Homo sapiens: one gene and its partners. The protein of the gene in region 1 purifies or fractionates together with the protein of each later gene. This does not show direct contact. Each region holds a gene or a part of one and is shown in the gene's direction. Other genes may lie near its edges.

Region 1 (3,500 bases):
GATTCCTTGAGACTGCCTTTAAGATACAAGTTGTGGCAGATTCACATAAGGAAAAAAAGATACAATAAGAAGCTTTTCCTGACTCTTATTTTTTTACTATAACATCATTTTCCTTTTTTTTTTTTGAGACAGAGTCTCGCTCTGTCGCCAGGCTAGAGTGCAGTGGTGCGATCTCAGCTTACTGCAATCTCTGCCTCCTGGGTTCAAGTGATTCTCCTGCCTCAGCCTCCGGAGTAGCTGGGATTACAGGCACGCGCCACCACGCCCGGCTAATTTTTGTATTTTTAGAAGAGAGGGGGTTTCACCATGTTGGCCAGGATGGTCTTGATCTCTTGACCTTGTGATCTGCCCTCGGCCTCCCAAGTGCTGGGATTACAGGCGTGAGCCACTGCACCCAGCCCATTTTCCTTTTTTTAAACTTAAAAAAAATTTTTTAAATGTACATGTTCCATATGTGCTAACATGTCTAAACCTTAAATTAGTTTATCATAATGTCATGTTTTAGATTTTACATTTCATTGATTATATGAATATTCTGTTTATTTATTTATTTTATTATTATTATCATTTTTGAGACGGAGTCTTGCTCTGTCGCCCAGGCTGGAGTGCAGTGGCGCGATTTCGGCTCACTGCAAGCTCTGCCTCCTAGGTTCACGCCGTTCTCCCGCCTCAGCCTCCCAAGTAGCTGGGACTACAGGCACCCGCCACCATGCCTGGCTAATTTTGTTTTTGTATTTTTAGTAGAGACGGGGTTTCACCATGTTAGCCAGGATGGTCTCAATCTCCTCACCTCGTGATCGGCCTGCCTTGGCCTTCCAAAGTGCTGGAATTACAGGCATGAGCCACCATGCTTGGCCTATTTATTATTTTTTTTGAGAGAAACAGATGCGGTAGGATCATAGAATACTCAGACCGGGAGGAATTTTTTTTTTTTGAGACGGAGTTTCACTCTTGTTGCCCAGGCTGGAGTGCAATGGCGTGATCTCGGCTCACCGCAACCTCTGCCTCCCGGTTTCAAGCGATTCTCCTACCTCAGCCTCCTGAGTAGCTGGGATTACAGGCAGGCACCACCACACCTGGCTAATTTTTTCTATTTTTAGTAGAGATGGGATTTCTCCATGTTGGTCAGGCAGGTCTCAAACTCCTGACCTCAGGTGATCGGCCTGCCTCGGCCTTCCAAAGTGTTGGGATTACAAGCATGAGCCACCGCGCCCAGCCTACATCATTTGCCTTTTTAGTTCTTCAACACTTCCTTGTAAAATCTGGCGTAAAATTTCAAATTCTGACTTTGGATGTTACAATACGTATCCTTTTCCCTTGCTTGCTTTCTGTTTTTGGTCTCCAAGATGGAGTCCAGCTTTGTCGCCCAGGCTGGAGTGCAGTGGCACGATCTCGGCTCACTGCAACCTCCACCTCCCAGGTGCAAGCAATTCTCCTGCCTCAGCCGCCTGAGTAGCTGGGATTACAGGCGTATGCCACCATGCCTGGCTAATTTTTGTATTTTTAGTAGAGACGGGGTTTCACCATGTTGGTCAGGCTGGTCTCGAACTCCCGACCTCAAGTGATCCGCTTGCCTTGACCTCCCAAAGTGCTGTGATTACAGGTGTGAGCCACTGGGCCCAGCCTCGCTTTCTTTCTTTTTTTTTGAGATGGAGTCTCACTCTGTTGCCCAGGCTGGAGTGCAGTGGTATGGTCTTGGCTCGCTGACGCCTCTGCCTCCCGGGTTCAAGTGATTCTCCTGCCTCAACCTCCTGAGTAGCTGGGATTACAGTTGCCTGCCACCTCGCCCGTCTATTTTTTGTATTTTTAGTAGAGGTGGGGTTTCACCATATTGGCCAGGCTGGTCTCAAACTCCTGAACTCATGATCTGCCCACCTTGGCCTCCCAAAGTGCTGGGATTACAGGCATGAGCCACTGCACTCAGCCTGCTTTCTTAATTCCTCACTATTGACTAGTAAGCTTTTTCCATGCAAGCCCTATTCGAAACTCCTTGGCTTACAGCCACACTTAAACAGAGTGTTCTTTCATACTCTCCCATATGCTTGGGTCATCTTCTGTATGTAATATGTCAGTTGAGGGGTCCCCAGCCAGTCCTTCTTAAAGCCTGACTATTCACTTTGGCTCATTCCTTCAGTAACCATCCCTTATGCATTTACTATATGCCATGCATTGTGTGGAGAGAAAAGAGAAATGATAGGTCCCATCTTTCTCCAGAGATCGTGATTAATGGAGAGACAGTAAACATGAAGCATATTTGATTACAGTACATTGGATGGTAAGAGCTTGTATAGGAGCACCACTTGCCCCAGCATGGGGGAACTTGAGGAGATGATCCTTAAACCAAGCCTTGCAGGATGAGTTGAATTAAGTAGACAAAGAAGGAAAATGATGTTCTAGAGAGAAGGTATAGCATATAAAAAGGCTTAGTGACATGAGAGGGTTTGGTATATTTAGAGTGTTATAAGTTAGTTGCACAGTCAGTAGGACCTTGTGGGCATTTCTGGTTGGGAGGGAGAGGTCATAGGAACCTCTTCCTCAAAGTATAAAGCACCTGAAACTTGTCCCTTCATACTTAATTTTCTACCTCCTGCCATCTCTTTACTTTGAGTATAGTAAGAGCAAAATACCTACATAGATAGATCAGGGAACCCTAGGCTAGCTGTTTCCAAAGGTAAACATCCCTCATGTCCTACCCATAGTTGCCTCCCTAGCTCATTTGCAGAAAATGTTTTTGGATTGTCTGAAGGGTATTAAAAATCCCTATATAAGCATTTATCTTAGCATTTATGTTGTCAGTATTTACCTACTTTATGGTTTATTTTTCGTAAGTGGATTATATATTGACAGTTTCAAATGCTGATGGCAGGAGTTCTTTTTAAAAAGTAGGCCAGGCATGGTGGCTCGTGCCTGTAATCCCAACACTTTGGGAGGCCAAGGTGGGTGGATCACCTGAGGTCAGGAGTTTGAGACCAGCCTGACCAACATGGTGAAACCCCATCTCTACTAAAAATACAAAAACTAGCCAGGCATGGTGGCAGGCACCGGTAATCCCAGCTACTTGGGAGGCTGAGGCAGGAGAATCGCTTGAATCCAGGAGGCAGAGGTTGCAGTGAGCCAAGATTGCGCCACTGCACTCCAGCCTGGGCAACAAGAGCGAAACTCCGTCTCAAAAATAAATAAAATAAAATAAAATAAAATAAATAAATAAATAAATAAAAAGTCAGTATTCAGGAGCTGAACCCAGTCACTCTCCCACACTGCAAGACCATTACAGTAGTCCATATATGAAAAAAAAAATCATTATTCTTTTATGGTGCTTAGGAGAATACTAGGATAGGCACTATTGGAACTATTAGGAAATTTTAATGAAAAATGTTGATCATGCTGTCCTTAGGTTTCATCTCTAGATTCTTTGGGTTTTTTTGTGTCTGTTTATTCATGCTTTCCTCAAATTTTTTTAACTTAGAATTTTTAACTTTAAATTTTTCTGTATTGTATTT
Region 2 (3,500 bases), on another chromosome or scaffold:
TGTAGTAATGTCTATTCTAGTCATGCACACTGGTGTTAACTTAATTTTTGTTGTTTTTTGTTTTTCAGTTCTAATCTCATTTTAGCAAAAACTTACCTTTTTAAATATCCTGTTGCATTGTAACATATACTTAGGTCCACAAATCTGAGCTCAGTGAGGATTATCCCATAGGCTTCTTTGTTTTTCGTGTCAGTCAATGCCAAATCAAAGCCCTTTGGGCTGGTGGTTTCTGTAGAACCACCCTGATTCAGTCTGAGGGCAAATAATCTCCTACACTTCAGGCTCACAGATTCATCTTTGGCTCATGCTAAGACATGTCCCGAGGTCATGTAGTTGAATGGCAGCTAAACTTATCTGAGTTGTTTAAAGTATTTTCTCCCCAGTGGCTTAGAGTTGAATTTGGATAAATCTGCTCTCTGTACAGTGTAACCACATTTGGCAGGTGCTCAATAAATGTTTGTGGAGTGAATGAGAGAGATGAAAGGAGACATCAGGATGGGTATGTCTGGTGAATGTGGCTTTCTCCTTCCTTGGAGAGCTGACCATTGACAGGTGTGCCAGTTTGTTACAGCTGTGTGACAAACAACCCAAACAACAGGCATCTTATTGTTTCTTGTGATTCTGCCTGGTTGGGCTCAACTGGATGGTTCTTCTGCTGGTATCGCTTGGGGCCTCTTGATGGCAGGTAGGGCTGGAATGTTTAATATGTCTGCATTTATGTGTGCAGCCCTTCGGCAGGGACACTGAGTTGTCTGGATCTCTCTCTCTCTCTCTGTGTGTGTGTGTGTGTGTGTGTGTGTGTGTGTGTGTGTGTCAGTCTTCCACGCTATGGCCTCTGAAGCTCAAAGCTCCTAGAATCACAGGTCTGGAAGTTGCCAGAGCTGTAACTTGCCCCACATCACTTCCACTGCAGGCCCAGATCCCAGGGGAGGGAACCTTGCAGGGGTCCAGACACTGTTGCTGTGGCCATGGGTTCCTCTTGCCTGAGCTGATGCTGAGGTTTCTCCCATGTCTCCCAGATGCTCAGTGACCTCCAGGAGTCTGTGGCCAGCTCTCGCCCCCAGGAGGTGTCAGCATACCTCACCCGCTTCTGCGACCAGTGCAAACAGGACAAGGCCTGCCGCTTCCTCGCGGCCCAGAAGGGGGCCTACCCCATCATCTTCACTGCCTGGAAGCTGGCCACTGCAGGTGACCAGGGCCTTCTGCTCCAGTCCCTCAATGCCCTGTCGGTGCTGACTGATGGACAGCCAGACCTCCTGGATGCCCAGGGCCTGCAGCTCCTAGTGGCCACGCTGACCCAGAATGCTGATGAGGCTGACCTGACCTGCTCTGGGATCCGCTGTGTGCGTCACGCTTGCCTGAAACATGAACAGAATCGGCAAGACCTGGTGAAAGCTGGCGTGCTGCCTCTGCTGACTGGTGCCATCACCCATCATGGCCACCACACTGACGTGGTCAGGGAAGCCTGCTGGGCCCTGCGTGTCATGACCTTCGATGACGACATCCGTGTGCCCTTTGGCCATGCCCACAACCATGCCAAGATGATTGTGCAGGAGAACAAAGGCTTGAAGGTGCTCATCGAAGCCACCAAAGGTAAGAGCTGGGGGCCGACACGAGCCAGCGAACAAAGTGGGCGGGTCAGATGTGACCAGAGTGAGGGTCAGGGCTCAGGACTGCTTTAGGCACGGCAGGCTCAAGGCTCCACTCGCCCCTCGGCTTAGACCTGCCTGCATGGCAGCCCTCGTGAAGAGTCTCCCCATGTTTTCTAGTGGCTCCAGGAGAATTCCAGGCCAGCACTCAGGGGCCAGGAGCAGGCCACAATCCCATCTCTGGAGCTGTCTGGGGAAGGGGCTTGCTGTGTCCAACTCCAGGGGCTGAGAGTGGGGAAGGGGGACCTCCCCAGAGGGAAATAAGAGGACTCGGGGGGGCTGGCTGGCATGCACCATGGCAGTCTCAGCTGGATGTGTACACGCTTGATCATATTCAGCCACAAATCCTTAGGCATATTCATGTGTCTGGCTCCAGGGTGACCATGGTGAGCCAGCCCTGGGAGGTCACAGTGCTGACCGTCAGACCCTAAAGCTTCTGTCTTAACCCCTACCCCCATCCCATCCACTGAACCCACCAGAAAAGTCCTGATTGACACACAGAAGGTGTTAGGAGGATGAGTTCCCCTTTCTTGCCTGCCCCGTCACTCTGGTTCTGTGGCCAGGCCTGTGTGGGGGTTCTGGCTCTGTCTGCTGAGGAGATGGGCCCACCTCAGTCTCCCTTCCACACCTCCAGCAAGGCTGAAAATGAGTCCCGACCTTCTGCAAAGTCAGGCTGCTTTTCCAGGAGGTAGCTCACATCTTTCCTGTTTTATTTATAGGAGCTCCAATCAGTTAGGTTTCTGCCAGAGACAGGATATGTATATATGAAGAGACTTTTTGGTAAGGAATGGGATCATGCAATTATGGCAAGTCTGTACTCCATAGGGCAGGCTGGAAACCCCCAGGCAGTCCCCTTTTCGGGGAAACACCTCAGTTTCCTTCTAAGGACTTCAGCTGATGGAATGAGTCCCATTCACATTGTTCAAGGTCATCTCCTCTACTTAAAGGCAACTGGGCTGGGCATGGTGGCTCATGCCTGTAATGTCAGCACTTTGGGAGGCTGAGGTAGAAGGATTGTTTGGGCCCAGGAGTTCAAGACCAGCCTGGGCAACATGATGAAACCCTGTTTCTACTAAAAATACAAAAATTGCTGGGCGTGGTGGTGGGCACCTGTAATCCCAGTTACTTGAGAGGCTGAGGCACAAGGATCTCTTGAGCCTAGGAAGGAGAAATTGTGGTGAGCCAAGATCACGCCACTGCACTCCAGCCTTGGTGACAAAGCGAGACTCTGTCTCAAAAAAATTAATAATAATAATAATAATAATAGATAGCTGATTGTGGATGGTAACCATGTGGACAGAATACCTCCACGGCAACACCTAGATTGGCATTGGGTGGAACTGCAGAGGGCTACAGGTGGTCACAGGAACTGACCGTCGCAGCCCTGTGTAGGTGCAGGATCTTCGCCCTCTTGGCGTGAGTGCCGGCACCTGCTTCCTGGTGCAGCGCCTCTGGGCTCCATCTGCGGCTCCTGTGTTCAGTTTTGGCCACGTCAGCCCAGTCCGTATGTGTCCCTCTATGGTTCTGGAGTTTCCTGTTGCACTTAGAGAAGCCATTCCTACCCCATGATCATAAAAATAGTCTTCAGATGTCTTTTTTTTTTTTTGCACTATTATAGTTTTCTTTTTTTAGGTGAGACCATGAGTTGGTATGGAATTTATTTGGGGCATGATGGAAGGAAGCGGGTTGGGGGGCACATTCTTAAGTCTTCCCAGCAGCCAGCAGGGGGCACTGCAGGCCCAGGTAGCCCCTGGTGTTCCCTGGGGCCTTCCTGGTGCCCGTGGCCACTCCAATAGGCAGAAGGGCTGGACTCTTCCAGTGGAGCAGGATCTCCACCAAAACAGAGGGCCC
Region 3 (3,356 bases), on another chromosome or scaffold:
TATGCCACTCCAAAAAAACATGGCTACTGAGAAGTACAGATAAGAAAGGCCTGTTTCATTTCCAATCTTTTCCCTGGAAGTTGCTGGAGAAAATATTAAAATCAAGGTGACAGCTTTTTAAGTCATGACCTCACAAAAACAAACTGACACTCAATAATGCCCCACAATCTTCCATCTTTCTAGTGTACTCTCTGAGATGACCATCCATACCTCACTGCTGCTCAAAACTTCTTTGCCCCTCTCCTAACTGATGAAATATGAAAGGGCTTTTTAATCTCCATTGCCTAGGCCAAGACTTCATCCTTCTTTTTATCCCTTTCTTCTGAGTCATCTCTCTCCTTTTCTGTTTATGCTATTTTCATTAGCAGAATATATGTTCTAGTCCATGCATTCCTCTCCAGCTAGTCCCATTTCTCAACTCGTTCTCACAGCCATATTTTTCAAAGGAGTTGTCTCTACTTTTCACCCATCTACACTCCTTGACCCACCATCATCTAGTTTCTGCTCCAAAGCACAACGGAAATGGTCAAGCTCACCACTGACCTTCAGTTTTCTAAATTAAATATTAACAGATACCTTTATCTTTTTTTTTTTTTTTGAGACAGAGTTTCACTCTTGTTGCTTAGGCTGGAGTGCAATGGTGCAATCTTGGCTCACTGCAACCTCTGCCTCCCCGGGTTCAAGTGATTCTCCCCCCTCAGCCTCCTGAGTAGCTGGGATTTCATGCATGTGCCGCCATGCCTGGCTAATTTTGTATTTTTAGTAGAGACGGGGGTTTCACCATGTTGGCCAGGCTGGTCTCAAACTCTTGACCTCAGATGATCTGCCCGCCTTGGCCTCCCAAAGTGCTGGGATTATAGGCGTGAGCCACCGTTCCCAGCCTGATACCTTTATCTTTATTATAGTCAACCTTTTAAATTGATCACTCATTCTAGAAAGTCCTCCTTCTCTTGGCTTCTGAAATGACATTCTTCTCTTTGATCCATTGCTTTTCAGATCTTCTTCTGCCTGATCCTTAGATGTTGAGATTCCTTAGGGCTGGGTATGGTGGTGCACGCCTATCGTCCCAGCTACTCAGGAGAATGAAGCAGGAAGATCACTTGAGCCCAGGAGTTTGAGGCTATGAACTATGATCTTGCTGCTGCATTCTAGCCTGGGTGACACAGCACAGGGAGACCCTGTCTCAGAGAAAAACAACAACAGAAGATTCCTGCAGTCTTCCTCCAACATACATCTAAAGTGTTTTCATTATTCTGCATCTCTTTTGGCCATTCCTTACTCCAAGACACCATTATTTCTACTTAATTTATCTTCTCATTTCTTTATTCCTCCTTCGAATCCAATATTAAAACCCAAATCAATGTCTGAGCACAATGGCTCATGCCTATAATCCTAACACTTCGGGAGGCCAAGACAGGAGAGTCACTTGAGGCCAGGAGTTTGAGACTAGCCTGGGCAACATATTGAGATTCACCCAGGCTGGAGTGCAGTGGTGTGATCATGGCTCACTGCAACCTCTACCTCCCGAGTTCAAGCAACTCTCCTGCCTCAGCCTCCAAGTAGCTAGGACCACGGGCATGTGCCAGCATACCTGGCTAGTTTTTGTATTTTTAGTAGAGATGAGGTTTTACCATGTTGCCCAGGCTGGTCTCGAACTCCCAAGCTCAAGAAATCCACCTGCCTTGCCTCCCAAAGTGCTAGGATTACAGGCGTGAGCCACTGCATCCAGCCCAAAAACATTAAAAAAAATTATCCAGCTGTGGTAGTGTGCACCTATAGTTCTAGCTACTCAGAAGCTGAGATGGGTAGATCCCTTGAGCCCAGGAGTTCAAAGTTGCAATCAGATATGATCTTACTACTGCATTCCAGCCTGGCCAACAGAGCAAGACCCTGTCTCAAAAAAAAAAAAAAAAAAAAAAAAAGAAAAGAAAAGAAAGGAAAATTTTAAGTTTCAAATTTTTGAAACTGCATCCCCAGAAGACACCTTGAAAGACCTTGATCCAGAGGTACCCAGTAAGCCACACCTGGATTCCTGACCCACAACACAGAAATGATGAGATAACGTAGTTGTTTTCAGCGGGTAAAAGAAACCCAAAACAAATAAGGATCACATCTCTGCCCTTCAAGGAAATCTAAGGTTTCCTACAGGTCTTAGAATAAAATCCAGACTCCTGATTATGGCTGGAAAGGTCTTATTGGACCTAGCCCCAGCCTACCTTTCAGACCTTATCTTGGGCCGCTCCCTTAATCCAGCCACGTTTTCAGTTTCAGGTACTCAGCAAGATCTTTACAAGGGGCTCCCTCATCCTGGAATGCTCCTTCTGGCTCTTTACTTGGCTGACTCATTTCAGAAACGAGCTTAAAGTTCATCTCTGAGGGTCCTTCCCTGACCACCCTCTCTATTATCTGTTTCACTATGATGTTGGTTTCCTTTATAATACATCATAATTTGAAATTATTTTGTTTTCCTATTTACTATTTCCTTTTTGTTGTTGTTTTTTTTTTTTTGAGACGGAGTTTCGCTCTCGTTGCCCAGGCTGGAGTGCAATGGCGCAATCTTGGCTCACCGCAACCTCCGTCTCCCGGGTTCATGTGATTCTCCTGCCTCAGCCTCCCGAGTAGCTGGGATTACAGGCATGGGCCACCACATCCAGCTAATTTTGTATTTTTAGTAGAGACGGGGTTTCTCCATGTTGGTCAGGCTGGTCTTGGGTCTGGGGTACTGTTTTCTTTTATTTCTTTGGTCTCCCACAGGAGAGCGTGAGCTTCGTGAAATTAGGGCTCACAATTCACTTTTATGTTCCTGTGTTCCTTGTGCCAGGCAAACTGCCAGACACATAGTAGAGGTCTCATAATATTTGTTAAATAAGAAAAATGCATCTTTATTATTATTTTCTAACACAGTCCATATAACTATCTAAGGCACACGTTGAGAGTTTCATTTAACTCAATCTGAGATGAGACCAGATTTCCCTAAACTATGCGTGCTTCCAGTGAACCTATTTGATTTCTTGTCTCATTTATTTTATGAATGCATTTTTATTGGCTTTTGTTTCCCCCTTACTAGGGTATTCTCATAGCAAAGAGAAGATACAGAATTTAAGGTAAGAATAATGGAATGGGGTTGGGAAAAGGTGAGAATCTTGGAAGTCCCTACTCTAACATGTCTGATCTTTTCTCTGAGAAATCCTGTCCTGGGGCTTTGAGATCTGAGTTTATACTTCCTTCTTTCTCTAGGTCTAGTTATGAAGTGAAAATGTAACATGCTACTGTGTGTACTTCCTGACACCTCTAGCTTCTTTAGTTCTAAAGTTAAGGTATAGAATTTATCACCCTAATAATACAACATGCTTATT
Region 4 (3,500 bases), on another chromosome or scaffold:
GCAGGAATAGTTTGTCAGATTACATAATTTTTTACAAGGAAGGCTGGGGCCCATGTGGAAATTATGGAATCTATGTTGGTATATTTTGATGGGATGGAAGTATGGTAGATCTGGAGAGAGAGAAGTTCAATCTAAGTAACATTATTACCGGGTAGAGTAATGAGGTGGGGTGCTTTGGATGTGAGGGCACAGGTACATTGTTCAAGTGGAGAGTAGGATGAGGGACTTCTGGAGACTAGCTTTGCTTAGTGTGTAATTTTGTGCATTGTTATGATTATAATAACTTGTAAGATCAGCAATTTGGAAGTAAAGAAAAGCAGTGCTGTGCATCATAGTGTGGAGTTTGTAATAGTTCTAGGCTGTTTTGCAAGATGTAGGTGCTTTACAAATATCCATTGGTAGTAATGGAAGTGCTCTGTCTTATCACCTATTTTAGAAATCTGGAGAGGCAGAATAGCACGAACCCTGGAGCCAGACTGCCAAAGTTCAGAACTGGTACAGCCACTTACTAGCCTATTGCACTGGCCCTATGCTGACTTGGGGTGGCCAAAAGGGAAGAAAATGGCATATTTAAGCAGAGAGGGGGCCAGAGATAGCACTCTGTGAGTTTTCCATGGTTCTTACATGGTCTGAAAGAGATCTGGATGTTCTCACATATGACTAGTGAAGGAAATAGAAGTTAGTAGAGTGAGAGCCAGGAAGCCTGTCATTAGGCTGCTATTGTGAGGGAGGGACCATGTAGTAGACAGAGGTTGTGGGAAGGGCAGATTCATTTCATTGCCCACAAAAATTTGTGCTCCCTCTTGCTTGCAACATTTTTTTTTTTTTTTTTTTTTTTTTTTTGGAGACATGGGGTATCGCTCTGTTGCTCAGGCCAGAGTGCAGTGGCAGGATCTTGGCTCACTGCAACCTTCGCCTCCTGGGCTCAAGTGATTCTTGTGCCTTAGCCTTCCGAGTAGCTGGTACTACAGGGATGTGCCACCGTGCCTGGCAAATTTTTTGTATTTTTGGTAGAGATGGGGTTTCACCATGTTGCCCAGGCTGGTCTCTAACTGCTGAGTTCAAGCGATCTGCCCGCCTCAGCCTCCCAAAGTGCTGGCATTACAGGTGTGAGCCACTGTGCCTGCCACTAGTTTTTCACTAGTGAATGTGAATAGAAATCAATTTGTTGTCACTTCTGGGTTGAAGTGGCAGAAAAAATAGGTATTCTTTCTTCACCTTCTCTTTTCTAATTCAAGGGCCAGATGCAGAGGTTTAGGCTCTTAAGGGATAGTAAAACCATAAGATTGGAATGTTCTACAGTCCCTAAATTTACCATGTGAAAGAAATTTGTGTACCAAATAGGAATACCCACAATGGATTGTAATATTAATGAGAAATTTTAATTGTGTGAAGCTACCGAAAATCTGGGGTTTATTTGTTAAGCAGCTAGTGTTGCCTTAAGTATAAGCCAGGGACTGGATAGACGAGGTAGTCGAGACTGTAATAATATCCGTACCAGCAGGAGCTGAGGTGGGTGGGGCCAAGTTAGGAGATCCTCTGGATACTGTTCCAACATATTCATCAGCATGTGCCATTGTGACTCTGTGAGGGCCAATATTCAAACCTTAGAGGCCTGTGAGGATCCCCAGGGCAATCCATGGGTCTGTATTCAGGCTAATCATAATACTCCAGATGCCCATGAAAGCTTTATCTTACGCCCAGTCACCATGATAAGAATGAGGAACAGAGAAAATCTATACAAGTCTGAAGAGTTTTCTTAAAGTAGGGTTTCTTAACTTGACTCTGTTGATATTTTGGGCTGGATAATTCTTTGTTGTGTGTTCCTGTGCATTGTAGAATGTATAGCACCATCCCTGGCCTCTACTCACTAGATGCTAGTACCATCTTTCTTAATTGTGACAATGAAAAATGTTTCAAGATATTGCCAGATGTTCCCTGGGGACAAGGTCACTCTCAGTAGAGAACTACTGCTTTAAAGATTGAGTGAATGAGTGAATCTGAAAGAAATGATTTTAAATGGAAAGAAACTATTATCCTTAATTAAAGAACTTTTTCCCCTTTTAGGGGTTGGGTAAGGTTCATGGGGAGCAGTTCATTTCTGTATATCCAATAAAGGAAGCTATGTTGTTTTTATAAAACATCCTAGTTTCTAGTGTGTGTGTGTGTGTTTTCCTCTCTTCCTTGATATACTATATATATGTTTGTATTATTTTTTGAGTGACAGAGTCTCCTCCTGTCTCCTGCACTCCAGGCTGGAGTGCAGAATTCCTGAGCTCAAAGGATCCTCCTGCCTCACCTTCCCCAGTAGCTAGGACTACAGGTTTGTGCCACTGTGGCTGGCTACTTTATTTTTTTTGTACAGACAGGGTTTCGCTATTTTGCATAGGCTGAATTTGAACTCCTGCCTCCCAAAATGTTGGGATTACAGGCATGAACCCTGGTACCCAGCCTTAATGTTGATTCACCTTTCTCTTTATCAGCTTTAGAAATTACTTGAATTTTCCATTTATTACCTTGTGATTATTTCTTCTAAACCAGTAGCTGTACTTTTTATTGGCTAGACTAAGCTTGTCCAATCCCTGGCTGGTGAGCTGCGCACGGCCCAGGACAGTTTTGAATGCGGCCCAACACAAATTCATAAACTTTCTTAAAACATAAGGAGATTTTTTTGTTTTTTAAAGCTCATCAGCTATTGTTAGTGTTAGTGTATTTTATGGGTGGCCCAAGACAATTCTTCTCTTCCAGTGTGGTCCAGGGAAGCCAAATGATTGGACACCCCTGGCCTAAACAAATACACGTTTTTTCCCCTGTAATCTCAGCTGTCATGTCCACAGGTTGTCTCTAAATTATGAAAACCAATAAATAGTGTTGATACCATGACTGTGTAAGTATTATTTAATGCTAAGCCAGATAATGTGCTTAGATGATTATTCCTTTTCTGTCCCTGGGCTGCCAGAAGAAACATGTTGATAATATAGAGAATTAGTAGACTTTATTTATTTTATCAATTCTGACCATCAAATTAAAAAAAAATTTGGATATGACCAAAATCTAACTTTGGAATTAAAAAAGTTTTTGAATAGGACTTCCTGTTTTTCTTAGTGTCTTAAATTGCCCTCTTTTCTTGTACTATATGCCTCTATTATAGCCTCCCCTACACCCCAGCCCCCCCACACCCCAACTCTTCAGCATACTGCCTTTTGTGCTGCATTCTCTATTTATCTGTATTTGTCTGTAACTCTGCCTCCATTTGGACTCTTCTAGGTCTTTTCTTGTAACTTCCTTTCTCCTTACTCTTGAATTGGATCCATTCTGTTATACATATTTTTTTTTCCTTTTTTTTTTTTGCATCTGCTTGATCTGTTTATTGGAGTACATCTTCAAATAACTCTTTGAAAAAGAAGTATGTATGAGAGGCAAACTTTCCGAATTCTGTGTAAAAAAGTCTCCATTCTATTCTCACAAATGATTGATAATTTGGCTGGGTACAATATTGT

The links. Proteins that work in one complex are often made in the same cells at the same time.
Region 2: the proteins of NDC1 (region 1) and ARMC6 purify together in Homo sapiens (co-immunoprecipitation; one large-scale study listed by IntAct). This does not show direct contact.
Region 3: the proteins of NDC1 (region 1) and HAVCR2 purify together in Homo sapiens (co-immunoprecipitation; one large-scale study listed by IntAct). This does not show direct contact.
Region 4: the proteins of NDC1 (region 1) and OSBPL8 purify together in Homo sapiens (co-immunoprecipitation; one large-scale study listed by IntAct). This does not show direct contact.

What each region holds. Positions count from the first base shown.
Region 1 is NC_000001.11:53,828,297-53,831,796, reverse strand, and holds part of NDC1 (nucleoporin NDC1), read left to right. Parts: intron 1-3,500. UniProt on the Homo sapiens protein: Component of the nuclear pore complex (NPC), which plays a key role in de novo assembly and insertion of NPC in the nuclear envelope.
Region 2 is NC_000019.10:19,050,603-19,054,102, forward strand, and holds part of ARMC6 (armadillo repeat-containing protein 6), read left to right. Parts: intron 1-1,019; coding exon 1,020-1,593; intron 1,594-3,500.
Region 3 is NC_000005.10:157,088,689-157,092,044, reverse strand, and holds part of HAVCR2 (hepatitis A virus cellular receptor 2 precursor), read left to right. Parts: intron 1-3,067; coding exon 3,068-3,104; intron 3,105-3,356. UniProt on the Homo sapiens protein: Cell surface receptor implicated in modulating innate and adaptive immune responses. Generally accepted to have an inhibiting function.
Region 4 is NC_000012.12:76,549,772-76,553,271, reverse strand, and holds part of OSBPL8 (oxysterol-binding protein-related protein 8), read left to right. Parts: intron 1-3,500. UniProt on the Homo sapiens protein: Lipid transporter involved in lipid countertransport between the endoplasmic reticulum and the plasma membrane: specifically exchanges phosphatidylserine with phosphatidylinositol 4-phosphate (PI4P), delivering phosphatidylserine to the plasma membrane in exchange for PI4P, which is degraded by the SAC1/SACM1L phosphatase in the endoplasmic reticulum.